Linked DNA regions of Homo sapiens. The protein of the gene in region 2 purifies or fractionates together with the protein of the main gene of each other region. This does not show direct contact. Each region holds a gene or a part of one and is shown on either strand. Other genes may lie near its edges. The genes, in order: CCS, ZFHX3, TGFBRAP1, ACBD3 and BEND3.

Region 1 (3,520 bases), on a different chromosome or scaffold from region 2:
CAGTGTGAAAATGTGTAGCTGAGAATGCTACTGGGGAGACTTCAGACAACTCACCTGTTGCAGTTGTTTGTAAGGTCCCCGTACTGATGGACGTGGAGTCCATGCAGCCCAGGCTCCAGGCCGTCAATAGTTCCCTCGATGAGGCAGCGCTCAGGGGTCAGCTGTAGGAAGCGCACCACCCCCTGCACGGTGCCAGGCCCCCCCAGGATGGCCACTGCTGCCCCCAGATTCTCTGCAAGGTATTAGACACTTGGGCTGGCTTGCCACCTCACCCAGCACACCTCTTCAGCAGCTCGGGAAGGGCAGGGAGTCTCACATAATTTTCACACCTTCCTCAAAGCCACTCCAACCCAGAGCCTGAGAATCCTATGATTAGATTTGTACCAGCTCTGAGCCACCTCCCTCCGAGAGGGGCCAAGGCCACAGTGGTCACTCACGCAACTGGCCGCTGCCCATGCCCTTGAGTACCGCCTGCCGCCCCGTGCCTTCCAGGAGAGCCTGCACCTCCTGGCTGGGTAGAGTGGTGTGTACCAAGACCATCTGGTCCTCCAAGTGCACCTCCACATCCTGGACACCTGGCAAGAAAGAGAGGGAAGAGGGCAACAGAGGCTGGCACCCAGTGCTGGCAGCAGGGAACAGAAAAACAGACAGCAATTCTCCATCCCCATTTCCACCAAACTTCCCATGGTCAGAGGCAAGCTACTTCGTAACTGTGTAACCCTGAGTAAGCCTCTTCACTTCTGAGTCTGTCTCTTTTCATATAAATGGGGATAATGCCACCTTGCCCCCAGGATTTCTGTGAGTTCTAATACACGCCAGGCATTATTTATAACTTTGGAAACATACATCATTCTTTTTAAAGCAGTGTTTTGTTTTTTTTTTAAGTGGGCTATCCATAGTGGCATTATTCACAATAGCCAAAAGATAAAAATAACCCAAATGCCCATCAACTAATGAACAGATAAAATGTGGTATCCATACAATGAAATACTATTCAGGAACGAAGTGCTGATACATGCTACAACATGGACGGACCTTGAAACATTATGCTACAAGAAAGCCAGTCACAAAGCCACATATATAATGCCATGTATATTAGATATCTAGAATAGGCAAATCCACAAACAGAAAATATTCTTCCTGTAGGAGATAGCTTAAAAAATATTTTTTTTTTTTTGAAACAGAGTCTCTCTCTGTTGCTCAGGCTGGAGTGCAGTGGCACGATCTCAGCTCACTGAAACCTCCATCTCCCGGGTTCAAGCGATTCTCCTGCCTTAGCCTCCCGAGTAGCAGGGACTACAGGCACACACCACCACCATGCCCAGCTAATTTTTTTGTATTTTTTTCTTTTAGTAGACATGGGGTTTCACCATGTTGGCCAGGCTGCTCTCGAACTCCTGACCTCAGGTCATCTGCCTGCCTCAGTCTCCCAAAGTACTGAGATTACAGGCATGAGCCATCACGCCTGGCTGTGGCCTAGGATTTCTTTATGAAGTGATAAAAATGTAAAACTGACAGTGGAGAGATGGTTGTACAACTCTGAAAATACTACAAACAGATGAACTGTATCCTTTAAATGGGTGAATTTTTTTTCTTTTTTTTTTTTTGAGACAGAGTCTCGCTGTGTCACCCAGGCTGGAGTGTAATGGCACAATCTCGGCTCACTGCAACCTCAGCCTCCCAAACTGTTGGGACTACAGGCGTGAGCCACTGCGCCTGGCCTAAATGGGTGATTTTTATAGTACATGAATTATATCTTTTTTTATTTTCAAGATGGAGTCTCGCTTTGTCACCTAGGCTGGAGAGCAGTGGCATAATCTTGGCTCACTGCAACCTCTGCCTCCTGGGTTCAAGCAAGCCTCCCAAAGTGCTGGAATTACAGGCGTGAGCCACTGTGCCTAGCTGCCCAGCCTATGAATTATATCTTTTTTTTTTTTTTGAGACAGAGTCTCACTCTGTCGCCCAGGCTGGAGTGCAGTGGCGCCATCTGGGCTCACTGCAAGCTTCACCTCCTGGGTTCACGCCATTCTCCTGCCTCAGCCTCCCGAGTAGCAGGGACTACAGGCGCCCGCCACCAAGCCCGGCTAATTTTTTGTATTTTTAGTAAAGACGGGGTTTCACCGTGTTAGCCAGGATGGTCTCAATCTCCTGACCTCGTGATCTGCCCGCCTTGGCCTCCCAAAGTGCTGGGAATACAGGCATGAGCCACCACACCTGGCCTTTTTTTCTTTTTGAAATGGAGTCTCGCTCTGTCACCCAGGCTGGAGTGCAGTGGCACAATCTCGGCTCACTGCAAGCTCCACCTCCTGGGTTCTAGCCATTCTCCTGCCTCAGCCTCCCGAGTAGCTGGGACAACAGGTGCCCGCCATCACGCCCAGCTGATTTTTTGTGTTTTTAGTAGAGACAGGGTTTCACCGTGTTAGCCAGAATGGTCTCGATCTCCTCACCTCATGATCTGCCTGCCTCAGCCTCCCAAAGTGCTGGAATTACAGGTGTGAGCCACTGCGCCCAGCCGAATTATATCTTAATAAAGCTATTACACACATAAAAGGCAGGGACTATTGCCATCATTAGTAGAGCTAACACTTACTGGGCATGGACGGTGAGCGAATCCTGTGTTTTACCTGTCTTAACATATTTGGTACTCCTACTAAGCCTCTAAGTTAGGTACAATGATCCCCATTTTACAGATGAGAAAACTGAGGCACAGAAAGATGAAGAAACTTGCTCAAAGTCGCACTGTAGTAAGTTGTGCAACTGGACCTCTGACCATGCAGCCTAGCTCCAGAGCCCCAGCACTTAACCCAGATATTGTACTCACCCTAGGAAGCAGCCCTTAGGCTCCAAGCTGGGTTAGGACCACACCCCTTGTGGTCCTGTAGCAGCTCACACTCCCCCTCCTGTAATTCACATTGCACTGACTACAATCCTGTTTCACTCCTAGGCCGCCAGCTCTGTGAGGGCAGGAGCTCTGTGAGGTCCACAAGGGTCAAGTTCAAAAGTCAGTTGTCGGCCGGGCGCGGTGGCTCATGCCTGTAATCCCAGCACTTTGGGAGGCCAAGGTGGGTGGATCACAAGGTCAGGAGATCGAGACCATCCTGGCTAACACGGTGAAACCCCATCTCTACTAAAAATACTAAAAAGTTAGCCGGGCATGGTGGCGGGCGCCTGTAGTCCCAGCTACTCAGGAGGCTGAAGCAGGAGAATGGCATGAACCCGGGAGGCGGAGCTTGCAGTGAGCCGAGATTGCGCCACTGCACTCCAGCCTGGGCAACAGAGCGAGATTCCGTCTCAAAAAAAAAAAAAAAAAGTCAGTTGTCAGATGGCCAGGCGTGGTGGCGCACACCCATAATCCCAGCACTTTGGGAGGTTGAGGCAGGTGGATCACATGAGGCCAGGAGTTCGATACTAGCCTTGCCAACATGGCAAAACTCCATCTTTAGTAAAAGTATGAAAATTAGCCAGGCATGGTGGTGCACACCTGTAATCCCAGCTACTCAGGAGGCTGAGGTGGGAGAAT
Region 2 (3,520 bases):
GTACTGTTTGGCAAACCTCTCGAGCTGTTTGAAAGGAAAGTAATTCTGATGAACGTGCTCTTGATGACTCTTTAAAATCAAGATGTTGGAAAACAACTTGCCGCAGGAGTCACACTCGAGCTTTTCCAGGTTCTCTCCCTGGTCAGTCTTCCCATTCTTTTTCTGCACCTTCTGCTTGTTCTCATTATACTGGATGACCAACTCAAAGCCAAAGTTCTCCAGCAGGGCCTTGGTGGCGTTCCCTCTGGCATCTGAAGCAATGCGTGGAGGGAGCATGGAAGGCTCAGAACCACCCCCTGGTGCCAACTCTTTCTTCTCTTTGGCCTTCAAGGCATCTGGCAGTGTTTCCTTCGGACCGGTGTTGCCCTCTCCCCCCTCGGCGCTGTCCCTCTCTCTCTGGCTTTCTTTTTCCTTTTCTTTGATGACCAATTTGTTCTTCTTTTCGGGGTGCTGGCTTGGCTGAAGGAGGGCAGAGTGACTCTGGGCTATAGAGAGTTGGTTCTGCTGCTGCTGCGGCAAGATCTGCTGATGGCTCTGCTGTGGGACCTGAACCTGAGCCTTCAGATCTTCCAGCAGGCCTGGGCCTGTCCCAGTCAGTGTCAGTGCCCCACTGGTCACTGGCAAGCTCACCTCGGGGTTAAGCTGGAACTCAGCACTGGGGATGTAGAAAGGGAAGAGGAGGTGCTGCTGCTGCTGTAGTTGCAGCAGGGTCTCAGTTGTCATGGGGAAGTGAGGAAGGAGGGTGGGGTTAAACAGCTGAGACTGGATCAGGGCAGCCTGTTGCTGCAGCTCCTGCTGCAGGTGAGCTTGAACTTGAGCCTGGGCCTGGGCCAGCGTTTGTGCTTGTTGTTGTTGTTGTTGTTGTTGTTGTTGCTGTTGCTGCTGCTGTTGTTGCTGCTGCCTGGATGCAATCATATCTGCCAGTTTCTTCCGATTGGCCTCTTTGGGCTCTGAAGGGGAAGCAATGTTGGCACCAATAGGATTCCCCAGGGGTGGCATCCCTACACTCTCAGTGGGCACTTGGCTTAGTAAGTTAGAGCTTGGAGCAATGCCAGCACTGCTTGGATTGGAGGTGGTAAAGGTGTTACTGCCACTGGTGCTCACAGGACTTGGCGTGGAGGAGCTCAAGGAAATACTGCTGCTGTTCCCAGTCCCATTGCTGCTGCCACTTGCAGCCTCCAGCTTGGCTGCCCGGGCCTTGGTTTGATGTAACACAGACCTCATATGGATCTCCAGAGTGGAACTCTGGCTGTAGGCCACATTACAAGTGTTACACTTAAAAGGTTTGTTGTCTGGGCTGCTGGTGGGTTCTGGCTGACCGGTTGCTGATTCTTGAAGGGCTCTCTTTAACTTATGCAGGTGGGAGACAGAATTGTAGTGTACTAGCAGGATATTCTTTTGAGTGAAAGATTCCTTGCAGACGGTACACTTGTAAGGGCGAGAAGGGTCTAGGAACTTTTCCATAGTAAAATTGGGACCTTTTCTGAAAGGCAGAGCTCTCTTTGGCTCTGAGCCCGAGTCTTCTTGTACTGACCCAGAGTCACTGCCCGTTGGGCTCTGTTTATCTTCCAAGTCACTCTCTTCCTCCTTGTCTTCCTCAACAATTATGGTATGGTCCTCTGCCAGAGTGGGGTCTCCCATTGCCAGGAGGTCCCCATTGGCCAGCAGGCCACCATAAAGCTGTTGGATGTCAGCCTCACTCAGCTCCAGGTGGCTTGTCTCAAGGTGCTTCTTCAGAGCCTGGAAAGTTCGGAAACTGCGCTGACAAAGACAGCACATGGTGGCAGCTCTGATCACATGGTACTGAGAATGGAGCTGCAACTTTTCAATGGTCTTGAAGGCCAGGCTACACTGATTACAGCGGTACTTGTACACATGGCGATCTGACACCGGCAGCTGAGGCCTCTTGGCATGCACTTCATTAAAATGCGTCTGAAGGGCAGCAGAAGTTTTGAAAACCTGGTTGCACCCCTTCTTCCAGCAGATGAAGCCTGAGTCTTCTCTCACAGAGCCTGGGTCAGCAGGGGATGGTTTCAAATCTCCGCTTTGCTCTGTGCTTGCGGATGGCAAGATGTTCTTTCCCAGATCCTCTGAGGTTTCTGTTAAAAAAAAAAAAAAAATCAAACCCAAAGATAAAGAAGGCTTTGTTTCAAGGATGGCACCCAGAGCGGTCTACCTAGTCAGGCCTCATGAACACAGAATCTGATGATGAGGGAAGTGCCCAACCTGAATGACAGAATCTCTGCGGAGCGCCTCCTGCTTTCTTTTGTTCCTCCAATAGAGCACATATTATAAACAGGGTGCACATGAACAGAGATGGATAAAAGGAAATACAAAAAGTTTCAATGCATAATAGACCCATGTCATATCACAGATCTAACAGTCTTTTAAATAGCATTTAATTGCTTGACTCAGAATCCTCAATTTCTCAAGAGCTGGTTTGAAGGTTACTGATCTTAGACTGGATTTCCCTTTTATGTTCATCTTTTATGTAATAAGCATTTAGCACAGTAGATCTGAAGTGTAGAATATGTGAATTAATGCTGTCCTAAGTTGTGAGGAATTTACAAGAACTGCTGAACATCGTAATATAAGAAATTTGGGGATACATATTTTTAGGCATTTAATTTCTTGTTATAATGTGACTTCTGATTGCCATCTCTATTCAATAAGCAATTAACATTCAAGTGTTCAATTATTTAAAATACATTTTTTTCCCTACAATGAGATCATCACACTCATAAATACCGAGACCCTTTAACAGGTCATTTGTCCATTGTCTAATATGGAAAACTCACAAGAAAGAGAGAAGGCAGGACAGTAGTGTGGCCAAACTCTTCCCAACTTAGAACTCTTCCCACCTTAGAGGTGAACGATGTAGGACAGCCTCACAGAGGTCTAACCATTCATCTAGCCAGGAAACACTATGTGGCACCAACTACTGTCTACAACAATGTTCTTTCCATCAGCATCTCTGTGCTTCATCCTAAGCCAATCCCAAAAAACTCAGAACGAAAGACAACTAATCCAGTGTACCTAAAAATCAACCCACAAGTCCCTACTAATTAAGTCCTCAGAAATACAGTGTTTAATGGCTTAGAATGGTAGGGCCTACTGACTGAGTCTCTGGTTATTCACTCCCTAATTGTATAGTTTAAGAAGATGTGTGTGTCTGTGCCAGAATTCCACTGGTTCTCATACTAATTTTCTCTCACTTTAAACCATGTGAGTAATATACAAATACATGCCAAGAAGCAGAGTATAAAGTAGCTGATGACAGTGCCCCTCATCTCCTGATCAGTTACATTCACCTTAAGAGTATTGTAAAGAATTCCTGAAAACCTTTCTCCATGAACATTTTGGCATTCCATCTTGTTTCAATTTCTTGGGGTCAAGAATAATGATACTGACCAGGCTGCTTTCCTGCCTCTTCCAAATTGGAATTCCCATCTCGATCTGGAACAGCTGCTGGGAGGAACATGCTGCTTGGCATCACCATCTCAGGGGTGGTCACCTGAGG
Region 3 (3,520 bases), on a different chromosome or scaffold from region 2:
CACGATCTCAGCTCACTGTAACCTCCGCCCAAGTGATTCTCCTGCCTCAGCCTCCTGAGTAGCTGGGATTACAGGTGCCCACCACCACACCAGGCTAATTTTTGTATTTTTAGTAGAGATAGGGTTTCACCTTTTGGCCAGGCTGGTCTCGAACTACTGACCTCAGGTGATCTGCCTGCTTCGGCATCCCAAAGTGCTGGGATTACAGGCGTGAGCCACCTAGCCCAGCCTCAACAACTTTTTAGAATGAGGAGCAAAAACAATCAAATGACAACCCACTCTTGTGGGAAAATCTTACCAGGAACCCTTACGGAGTTTTCTGGTTTTTTGTTTTTTGTTTTTTGTTTTTTTTTTTTTGAGACAGTTTCCCTCTTGCTGCCCAGGCTGGAGTGCAATGGCGTGATCTCAGCTCACCGCAACTGCTGCCTCCTGGGTTCAAGCAATTCTCCTGCCTCAGCTTCCTGAGTAGCTGGGATTACAGGCATGCACCACCATGCCCGGCTAATTTTGTATTTTTAGTAGAGACAGGGTTTCTCCATGTTGGTCAGGATGGTCTCGAACTCCCCACCACAGGTGATCCACCTGCTTTGGCCTCCCAAAGTGCTGGGATTATAGGCGTGAGCCACTGCGCCCAGCCCAGAGTTATTTTTGTAGTTATTTACTTAAAAGAATTTTCCCACTGTTAAGAGTGGGTAGATAGCTAGCTAGACATGAATGGGAGGGAAGAGCCCCTGAGAAAAGGGAGGTCTGGAAAATCCCACATCCCAGAGACCATCAAAAAGATGCATGCTGGCCAGGCATGGTGGCTGATGCTTGTAATCCCAGCACTTTGGGAGGCCGAGGTGGGTGGATCCCTTGAGGTCAGGAGTTCAAGACCAACCTGGCCAACATGGTGAAACCCCATCTCTACCAAAAATACAAAAATTAGCCAGGCATGGTGGTGCATGCCTGAAATCTCAGCTATTTGGAAGGTTGAGGCAGGGAGAATCGCTTGAACCTGGGAGGTAGAGGTTGCAGTGAGCCGATACTGTGCCACTGCACTCCAGCCTGGGCAATAAAGCGAGACTCTGTCTCAAAACAAAACAAACAAACAAAACATGCATGCTAGATATGAGCAGAGAGGAGGGAAAGAGGGTAAAGGAGAAATTCCAAAGAGACATTCAGGTGCAGTAAGTATGGACCTAACCGCTGTACAACCTTCCTGGGGTGGAGGTAATGAGCAATGCAGCCATTAGGTGGGATTCACATCCAACACCGGCTGTACATGTGCACCAACTACTAGTAAGAGAGGGTCCCACAAGCTTAGAGTAGAAATTAGGTGGGAGGAAAAGGTGGGGACTTAAGGCAGAAGCGGGAAAACTAGACAAAGGAAAAAGGCAGAAACTTTAAGACAGAGGTGGGAACTTCAAGAAAAACTCCAGCATCATAAAAACCCGATGCAGAACTCTCAGGGCTGCTGGCTCACTCTCTCAGCATCCCACTCTGCCTCATCTTTCAGAACGTACTGTCTCTCTCCATATAAATTCTCTGTTCTCTATTTCCCTTCAGAAAGCTCTCTGCTATCTCTGAATTGTCTCTTGGCCAAAATCTTTCTCCCAAGATGACTAAGGGCTGAGAATATCCCCACTTCCCGGTAACACCACCAGAGCTGTCTTCAAGCTCCACTTTAATGTGAAAGAAACTGGTTTTATGACTCCAACCCCACGTTCACAGAACAATCGAACTGGATTTCATCAAGCACTGGTCAAGCACTGCTACCTCTGTCTTGCCACACACGCCCAATGTCACTGAGGATTTATTCTGCACAGCGCCAATCTCACTCTCCAGTTTCAACACGCAGTCACCGAGGCCACCCAAAAAGATCAGGCGCACAAATGCATCCTCCTCACCCAGCCCTCCGGGGCCCGCCAGCAGGAACTCCTGTCTCCCTATCCTCTTGACGATCGGCGGCCTCTCCTCACTGCAGTAGGGAAACAGGTCCTGGGAGACGCCTGTGCTGTAATTGTGGATGATGTACTGAGTGGTCAGAGCCAGACACAGGAAGTGGCCGTCCACAGCCACAGCGAGGGGCTGCTCGGCAGTCGACACCTCCTTGACGATCTGCACCCGGTCCTCGTACACCAGAAACATCTGGATGGTTCTGCGTTTGACAGAGATGATGCAAACTTCTACACAGAAGGGGTCCCCACTCACAGGGTTCTCGTTCAGTGCAAACGTGGCTGCCCCCTTGATGCGGGCCCCCGAAGGCACTGGCTCGAGGTTCAGCATGTTGACCAGGCTGATGGAGTTGTCACACAGCACCAGCAGCCTGTTGAGTGCTGAGGCCGCACGCAGCTCGTTCACGGGCTTCTTGAAGCCCAAGTGTCTCTGCAGCTGTTTGGTGGCAGTGAACGTGGCTGGCCCAGCAGGCACTGGCCTCTCCTCCAACAGGAAGTGGTAGACGAAGCAGTCGTTGGTGCCCACGTAGAGGTCCCTGCCGCAGCACTCCACGCACTCTATGTTGACGCGCTCCTTGTCGCCCATCAGCAGCTCCCGCTCCACAGCAGAGACAAGCGTAAAGGCTTTGATGCTCATCATGTCTACTGGCTGATCTGCTGGAAGAGAAAGAGGAAAACTAATTTTAGAGGAACAAGGAAGAAGCAGAAACAGAGGCTGCAATAATGATACGTGGATTCCCTAGTTGTCATTTTCATTAAAGAAAGTCATTCCACGCTATCAAAAAATGGAAAGAAACCATTTCCCCACAGACCTCCCCCATCAGACAGCAGAAGACCCAAGAAGAAAACCACAGACACATACACACACACACACCCATATACACATATGTATGTGCTTGTGATCACGTGCCATCCTGCTCAGTCCCCACACAGAGTCACCTGGAGCCTCCTCACATTGCTCCTGGGAGACACGCTTGAAGGCAGAAGACAAATGCATGCATTCACCCACGGGCAACATAACAAAAGGATTTCTGTGAGGCAGGAGGATGGCTTGACCCCAGGAGCTGGAGGCCAGCCTGGGCAATATAATGAGACCCCATTTAAAAAAAAAAACAAAAAGGATTTCTGAAAAAGGCAGAAATGATCCTCACTGATCTTCCCTGAGTTTCTACAGCTACTTGAATATGCACTTTAGTCAATGAACACAACCACAGTCACAGGATCCTGCCAGGAACACCGAGGCAGACGCCAGGCCTTGGATTCCTTTGTGTTCTTCCCAATAAGGCAGGCGCATCAGCCTCAGCTCCGGAGTAAATGTATTCATGTGGAGAGTAAAGGTGTGCCTCGGATCTCGAAAGGCTTTCAGATGGTGAGTGGAGCTATTTAGTGGATGTGTGGACCGACCGGTCCCTGGCTCCCATTGGAAGTGAGACTTTCCCACACACTAGCCCGTCGCCTCCTACTTCATCTTCTGCAGAGAACTGTGGCTTCACACTCCACAAAGTCACAGGGAGAAGATCAGGCAAGGTGGCCTTTCTGACTTCTCAGGCAGCCAGAAGCAAACTCAAAGGCACAGTCCCTGT
Region 4 (3,520 bases), on a different chromosome or scaffold from region 2:
TGTTGCTCCTGCAACTGGCGGATGAGAATTTGCTGCTGTTCGTAGTTCCCTGGATACTGTTGGGCTGCATACTGCTGGAACTGCACGGCAGTCTGGGAGTTTAAAGCTGCCATTATCTGCTGCCTAAAAACATTAAAAATATATATACTAGTCTGGCTACAGGAGATTGTTCATGACAAAATAAAATGTCCTTATTACTTACTTTTACAGTCTGTAACTCTTAAAAACAACTAAGCTAGTAATGTACACCAATTAGTATGTGTTCTGGGTCCAGAAGAAAGATTTAAGAAAATAAGCCTGGCCTCTAATTTTTTACTTAGGATTTTCCAGGAAAATTCGGGATGGAAGATAAGCATATGATCATCATCATCATGACCACCATCATAATTATTAACATTTATTGTGCCCTTACTATGTGCCATGCAGTGTTGAAAGTACTCACACATACTAACCCATTTAGTCCTCACAACAACCCTCTGACAGAGGGTTCAGTAACTTGCCCAAGACTATACTGCTAGCAGATGCTACAGCCTGATGCAAATCCAGGCAGTTTGGCTCTAGAGCTACACTAATTTACCACGATGCTTTAAGATGATGGATTGTCATCTCTGACATAGATGAGGTATTTAACTGTTGGCTATGGCTTCTGTACCTAAATACATAAAAAACAGTAAGAGGCAGAAGAATAGCTGGAAGATGTTACAGGTGGCCCTGGTAAGTATAAATAAAGCCAGTGAAAAATTAAGGGTCCACAGCATTTAATTTAAAGCCTGTCTTAATAGAGGAAATACTGAAAATATCTTGGCATGCTTAGTTTAGAGATACTCATATTCTTTTATAGATAAACCACATGCTTCTTCTTTTTTTTTTTTTTGAGACGGAGTTTCACTCTGTCACCCATGCTGGAGTGCAGTGGCGTGATCTCAGCTCACTGCAACCTCCACTTCCTAGGTTCAAGCGATTCTCCTGCCTCAGCCTCCCAAGTAGCTGGGATTACAGGCACCTGCTACCACGCCTGGCTAATCTTTATATTTTTAGTAAAGACGGTTTCACCATGTTGGCCAGGCTCGTTTCAAACCCCTGACCTCAATCAAGTGATCCGCCCGCCTCGGCCTCCCAAAGTGCTGGGATTACAGGCATGAGCCACCACAGCCAGCAACCACATGCTTCTTAACTTACTTATGTGACCAACTTAACAGAGACCTCAAAGCCATCTATTAATAGATAACAAAGCAAAGCCTCACAAACTCCTACATACAGCACAACATTCGATCCACCTAGGACAACCTCCCCCAAAAAAGAGCTGCATTCATAGTCTTTCTCCAAAGTTGAATGAGGGCCTGGATTAGTTTGAGGCTAGCACTAAACCTTTTTCTGAGGAACTACCCAGAAATAATGAGAAGAAATCAATGGACTCTCATGTTCTCTGGTTTAACCTACAAGCCATGCCACCCCTACAAACTCAGACTTACTTCCCAGTGTTTTATGGGTGTTAATCACTGCCTCCTTGTACCCACAGCTCCCTCTTGAAGAACCTGTCAGTCTCTGAGTCTCAAAGCCCTTACTGAGTAAGCAATAGTTGAAGCCTCCAAATCTTGTACTAAGGACTATAAATGGATATCTGACATAGACTGGACCAACAAGATTCTCTGTCCTGGGAAACTGCAACTGGGTCTCACAGATTCCAGCCAGTCTCTGTCAGATGCATGGAAACATAGACCAAATAAATCCTCGGACAGCCTTGCATATGCCAAAGCAGACAGTTGACAATTTGCAGAGAGCAAGGATGAAGCAGAGACATAAGCTGAGAGAAGCAGAGACAAGAAACAGAGAGCGCAACCAAGCAACCTCAGCTCCTGCTTCCAATCTCTGGGTTCTGCAAGTGAACCCCCAAACCTTCTAATACATTCCTTTTTTTTTTTGAGACGGAGTTTCACTCATTACCCAGGCTGGAGTGCAATGGCGCGATCTCGGCTCACTGCAACCTCCACCTCCTGGGTTCAAGAGATTCTCCTGCCTCAGCCTCCTGAGTAGGTGGGATTACAGGCATATGCCACTGCGCCCAGCTAATTTTTTGTATTTTTAATAGAAACAGGGTTTCACTGTGTTAGCCAGGATAGTCTCCATCTCCCAACCTCAGGTGATCTCCCAACCTCAGGTGATCTGCCCGCCTCCGCCTCCCAAAGTGCTGGGATTACAGGCGTGAACCACCACACCTGGCCCGCTCATTTCTTATTTTTATTCTATTTTTTTTCCATTTCTCATTTTAAAACATAAGCCACATAATAAACTTACTTTTGCTGCTCCAACCGAAGCCTTTCTTCTTCTATCCGTCTCCTTTCCTCTTCCTCCCGTCGAAGCCTTTCCTCTTCTTCTCTCCTACGTTTCTCTTCCTCCTTTTGCAGACGTTCTCTTTCTTCCTCTTCACGCCGCCTTCGCTCCTCTTCCTCCTTCCTACAAGGCAAAGATAGAGAATGAACCCTATACGTTGAATCCTGTTTAAAAATAAAACTTTAGCTCCCAGGGAAAACTGACATGACCTTTTTAGAGAACAATGTGGATATATACATCAAAATTTAAAATACATACACTTTACTAGCAGAAACTTATAGGGAATCAATCGCACAATATACAAATCACATCAAGAATAATTATTGTTGCACAGCAACAGAAATGTGTCCATCATAAGAAACTACTTAAGTCATTATGATATTCCTATACCCTGAAGGATCCCCTCTAATATATGCTCACAGCACTAAAAGCTTTTCCTTCATAATACCTGCTGTCATTATAATTAAATTTGTGTGATACATTCAGCAATAGATCTGCATTACCCATTAAACTAGATGCTCCATAGGGGAAGAGACTGCCTATCTCACACCACGACATCCTCAGGGCTTAGCACAGTGCTGGAAAGAACAAGCACTCGACAAACGTGTACAGAAGTAAAAAATCCACCCTGAAATATCGCAGAGCCAAAGGATAGAAATACATTGCCTAATATGTAAAGACATGTAATACACTTGCTTAATGAAAAAAAAAAAGGTGAATACAAAGGAAAAGATCTGGAAGGACATACCCTAAATTTATCAGTTATTATCTATGCAGAGGAGAGTGGAATTAAAAGAAATGTGGGAAAAAAGATTTTTTTCAGTTTGTGTTTCATATACTGCCATAAATGAAAATTTTATATTGCATATATTTGTGTATTATTTCTGAAATTAAAATTTTTTGTAAAGCTTTTAATTTAAAAAAGAACGGTTAACCTCTCAGGGCAGCCCTTGCCCAGCTTTCACCCACCCCACAAGACCCTTCCAAAAAGAACAGATCCTATTGTGCTAGGAATGGACATCTTCCGGGTCTGAGAGTGGTATGGTGTTCAGGGAGCCTGCAGACAGGATGAAAGGGAAGATTTCTAAGGAGTATCAGATAAGACACTATTTCATAAACCTACCACGAGAATTGTCTGGGCTACCTCACCTTTCTCCCCTCTAACTCCTATAAGTGATTAACAACTACC
Region 5 (2,937 bases), on a different chromosome or scaffold from region 2:
TGTGGGCCTGTAGTCCCAGCTACTTAGGAGTCTGTGGCAGGAAGATCACTTGAGCCCAGGAAGTCGAGGCTGCAGTGAGCCATGATTATACCACTGCACTCTAGCAGGGTTGGGGCGGCGGGAAACTAAAACCCATTTGATCCAAAGTGAAAAAAAAAAAGGCGGTTAAATGAAAATGAAACTCTGCTGGCTTTGCAGGACTGGCCTGGCACCTGACCAGGAAAGGTTAAAAAAGGTCAAACAAGCCTCCCACTACATGGCCAGGAAGTGGTTTGTGGAGAAATGGTTTGGAGGATTTATCTGGCAATTTCTCATTCATTCAGCTGTGGCCAAACTGAAATCCTATGAGCTGTACCCCTGACACGTAGAGTATGGAAGCCCCAGAAGCTGAAATCCCCCGGAATATTCACGTTCTTCCCTGGGAGGTGGGTGAGGAGGCCACGCACAAAGACAAATAGACCAAGACATATTCTGAGAGACCAGTGCTCTAAGAAAATAACATGTTACGAGACCATGTTTTTCTATTTTTATAACATTTTATATAACTCATAAAACAGTGTTTGTATAAAAATTCACACAAAGTTGCTAGAGAGCATACAATTTCCAAAAATGTCCTGGGTTTTTGTTACATTCAGTTTCCTAAGGATGCACTCCAATCTATGGTAAAATGCAGACATGATGCGAGATTTCATTATCTTTGGTAAAACTATTCTCATTATTTTGTCTCCTCACAGTATTAAGTCTGATATCCACTTTGTGCAGGGTCTGCTATTACTAGGATGTCAGAAAAACATTAAGGCTGGATCTACGAGAGGCAAGTATTTCCCAACAGCAGTAATAGCCCCTTGGCCCTCACCCCCACTTCATGTATCTATACAGTCGATCTACACAGCCAGGCGGGGTGCAAGCTCACGACCTCCACTCGGGAGTCTCGAGATCCCCTCTTGACTGGGAAAGAAGCAAACATTTGTGGGGAACGTTGGAAACGGAGGCCATCTCTAAATGAACCCAGTGGTCATGCTGTGGTGTGGTCAGACCAGCAACTTTTACCAATTAAATAGCCAATCTATTCACCACTAAGTAGATCCCATTGGTTGGTTGGTTGATGATTGCTGCTGATGTGGTTCCCCACTCCCCACAAACATAAAAGGAAAGGAAGGTTTGGAGCCAACACCGAAAGGGGAGGGGCACGCTAGCGCAAATGACACCAGACACGACTTTATTCCCTGTCAAACATTTGTTGTCCTGTAGACACAGCCAAGGTGAACTGAAGGGGGATGCGAACACTCAGTACATTCGTGACTATCTTCATACATTCTTTAAAAACTTACAGAGAAATCAATGAAGACTACCACCTACTGTGACTTACTAGTTCATTCAACATCAAAACGTGTCTGTGCTAATCTTTTAGTCCTTGGGATACAAGGCCAAAAAAAAAAAAAAAAAAATCCAAAAAACAAACAACTAAAAACCAAAGAATTTAGATGTGGGGGAAGGAAAGCGACTGCCAACAGGTTTCATGGAACACATTAAATTTTGAAAAAATAAGTATTTTGTACTTCTATTGCTTCATGTAAAAAATTTAAAATAAAAAAATGCCCACTGGAGCCACCTGTATGGATGGAGAAGTGAGGACACCATACAGACAGGGCAAGGACCTGCAGGCGTTTCCTGACGACAGTCCAGAGATGGTGAGAGTTCCCACGTGTGTCCACTTCTCTTCACAGAAAGGGACTGTAAGATTCTGGGGGAAGATGCCCTACACATGTAAGGTATTAAGAAAATCACTGAAATACGGTTTCCAAAAATTGAACATGCTCTGGGTTACAAAGAGACATATTTAATTCCTAGAACCTGTTGATTTCTCTAACAGGGGTAGATGGGAGTTTCAAAAAAATTATTAATAAATGATTGTGCTTCTAAAGTTGCAGGGTCAACATTCCACCCTCTAGAAAGCAGGGCAATTCATGGCTTGGAGTCCTCGTTTACATCCTAGAAACCAGAACAAATTCCATGGGACCTCCCGCCTCCAGCCCCCAACAACCAGCGGTGGGAAGGGGGAGGTGGTGGGAGAGGGCCACAGCTGTCTTTGGGTAGGGTGCGTGTGTGTGCATGCTGTGTGCATGTGCTGGAGAGACTAAGGCATAGAGAAGGGCCCAAGCGAGGGGGGAAAGTGAGTCTCCTGGCTGCTCCAGTCCCTCCTTTCCAGGCACAAAGAAGTTGAACTTGTTATTCGTGTAGGCCCCCTTCATCTCACTTCAGCTTTTAGTAAGCAGTGCGTGTGTGCATGAGTAGCTGTGTAAGACAGAGAGTCATTCAGTCCCTGTGCCTTTCTAAATCTGTTTGCAGTTTCAACAGAAATAATCTGTAAATGACACTTAGGAGCAAATTTACTAGTTAGATCAGCAACTTAACATTGCTTTTAAAATCCTGTATTTTAAAAAATGCTCCTGGGTACAGGCAAAATTATGTCATACAGCCACTGGAACTGAAGTTCTTATCAGCTGAATGAAGAAAATCCAGATTGTTTCTGTTATCTCTGCATTTTAAAGTAGCAAAATATTAAGCCATCCCACAGGGGTTCTATGACTACCCTGTGTGATTCAATAAATTTTCCAGGACTCTGGTATGACACACTGTTTGCATTCGACTGTTTCCTTTCCCTCTTAAGCATTTGGCCCCCAGAGTTAGGTAGGTAAAAGTATCATTTTAAAGGACTTTACCTGTCAGGGGATTTCCCAGTTGGTGCTCCTGGAGAGCATGCAGCTGGCCTGCAGGAGCCTGACATTCCCAGTCGGGAGGGAACGAAGACATGTGCCCCCCAAGGCAGGGGGTGGCCAGGTATAGGACAGCAGGACCTTCTAGAGAGTCCAAGAGGAAAGTTCTGAGTGGACCCTGGGAAGGGACATGTGTACCCCATCTAAAATGGCCTGTGTC

What was found.
Region 1: the proteins of ZFHX3 (region 2) and CCS purify together in Homo sapiens (affinity purification with mass spectrometry; one large-scale study listed by BioGRID and IntAct). This does not show direct contact.
Region 3: the proteins of ZFHX3 (region 2) and TGFBRAP1 purify together in Homo sapiens (affinity purification with mass spectrometry; one large-scale study listed by BioGRID and IntAct). This does not show direct contact.
Region 4: the proteins of ZFHX3 (region 2) and ACBD3 purify together in Homo sapiens (affinity purification with mass spectrometry; one large-scale study listed by BioGRID and IntAct). This does not show direct contact.
Region 5: the proteins of ZFHX3 (region 2) and BEND3 purify together in Homo sapiens (affinity purification with mass spectrometry; one large-scale study listed by BioGRID and IntAct). This does not show direct contact.

What each region holds. Positions count from the first base shown.
Region 1 is NC_000011.10:66,596,171-66,599,690, reverse strand, and holds part of CCS (copper chaperone for superoxide dismutase), read right to left. Parts: intron 576-3,520; coding exon 438-575; intron 233-437; coding exon 55-232; intron 1-54. UniProt on the Homo sapiens protein: Delivers copper to copper zinc superoxide dismutase (SOD1).
Region 2 is NC_000016.10:72,796,616-72,800,135, forward strand, and holds part of ZFHX3 (zinc finger homeobox protein 3), read right to left. Parts: intron 3,515-3,520; coding exon 3,412-3,514; intron 2,100-3,411; coding exon 1-2,099.
Region 3 is NC_000002.12:105,305,725-105,309,244, forward strand, and holds part of TGFBRAP1 (transforming growth factor-beta receptor-associated protein 1), read right to left. Parts: intron 2,595-3,520; 5' UTR 2,578-2,594; coding exon 1,890-2,577; intron 1-1,889. UniProt on the Homo sapiens protein: Plays a role in the TGF-beta/activin signaling pathway. It associates with inactive heteromeric TGF-beta and activin receptor complexes, mainly through the type II receptor, and is released upon activation of signaling.
Region 4 is NC_000001.11:226,159,236-226,162,755, forward strand, and holds part of ACBD3 (Golgi resident protein GCP60), read right to left. Parts: intron 2,455-3,520; coding exon 2,296-2,454; intron 124-2,295; coding exon 1-123. UniProt on the Homo sapiens protein: Involved in the maintenance of Golgi structure by interacting with giantin, affecting protein transport between the endoplasmic reticulum and Golgi. Involved in hormone-induced steroid biosynthesis in testicular Leydig cells.
Region 5 is NC_000006.12:107,064,666-107,067,602, forward strand, and holds the end of BEND3 (BEN domain-containing protein 3), read right to left. Parts: 3' UTR 517-2,937; downstream 1-516. UniProt on the Homo sapiens protein: Transcriptional repressor which associates with the NoRC (nucleolar remodeling complex) complex and plays a key role in repressing rDNA transcription.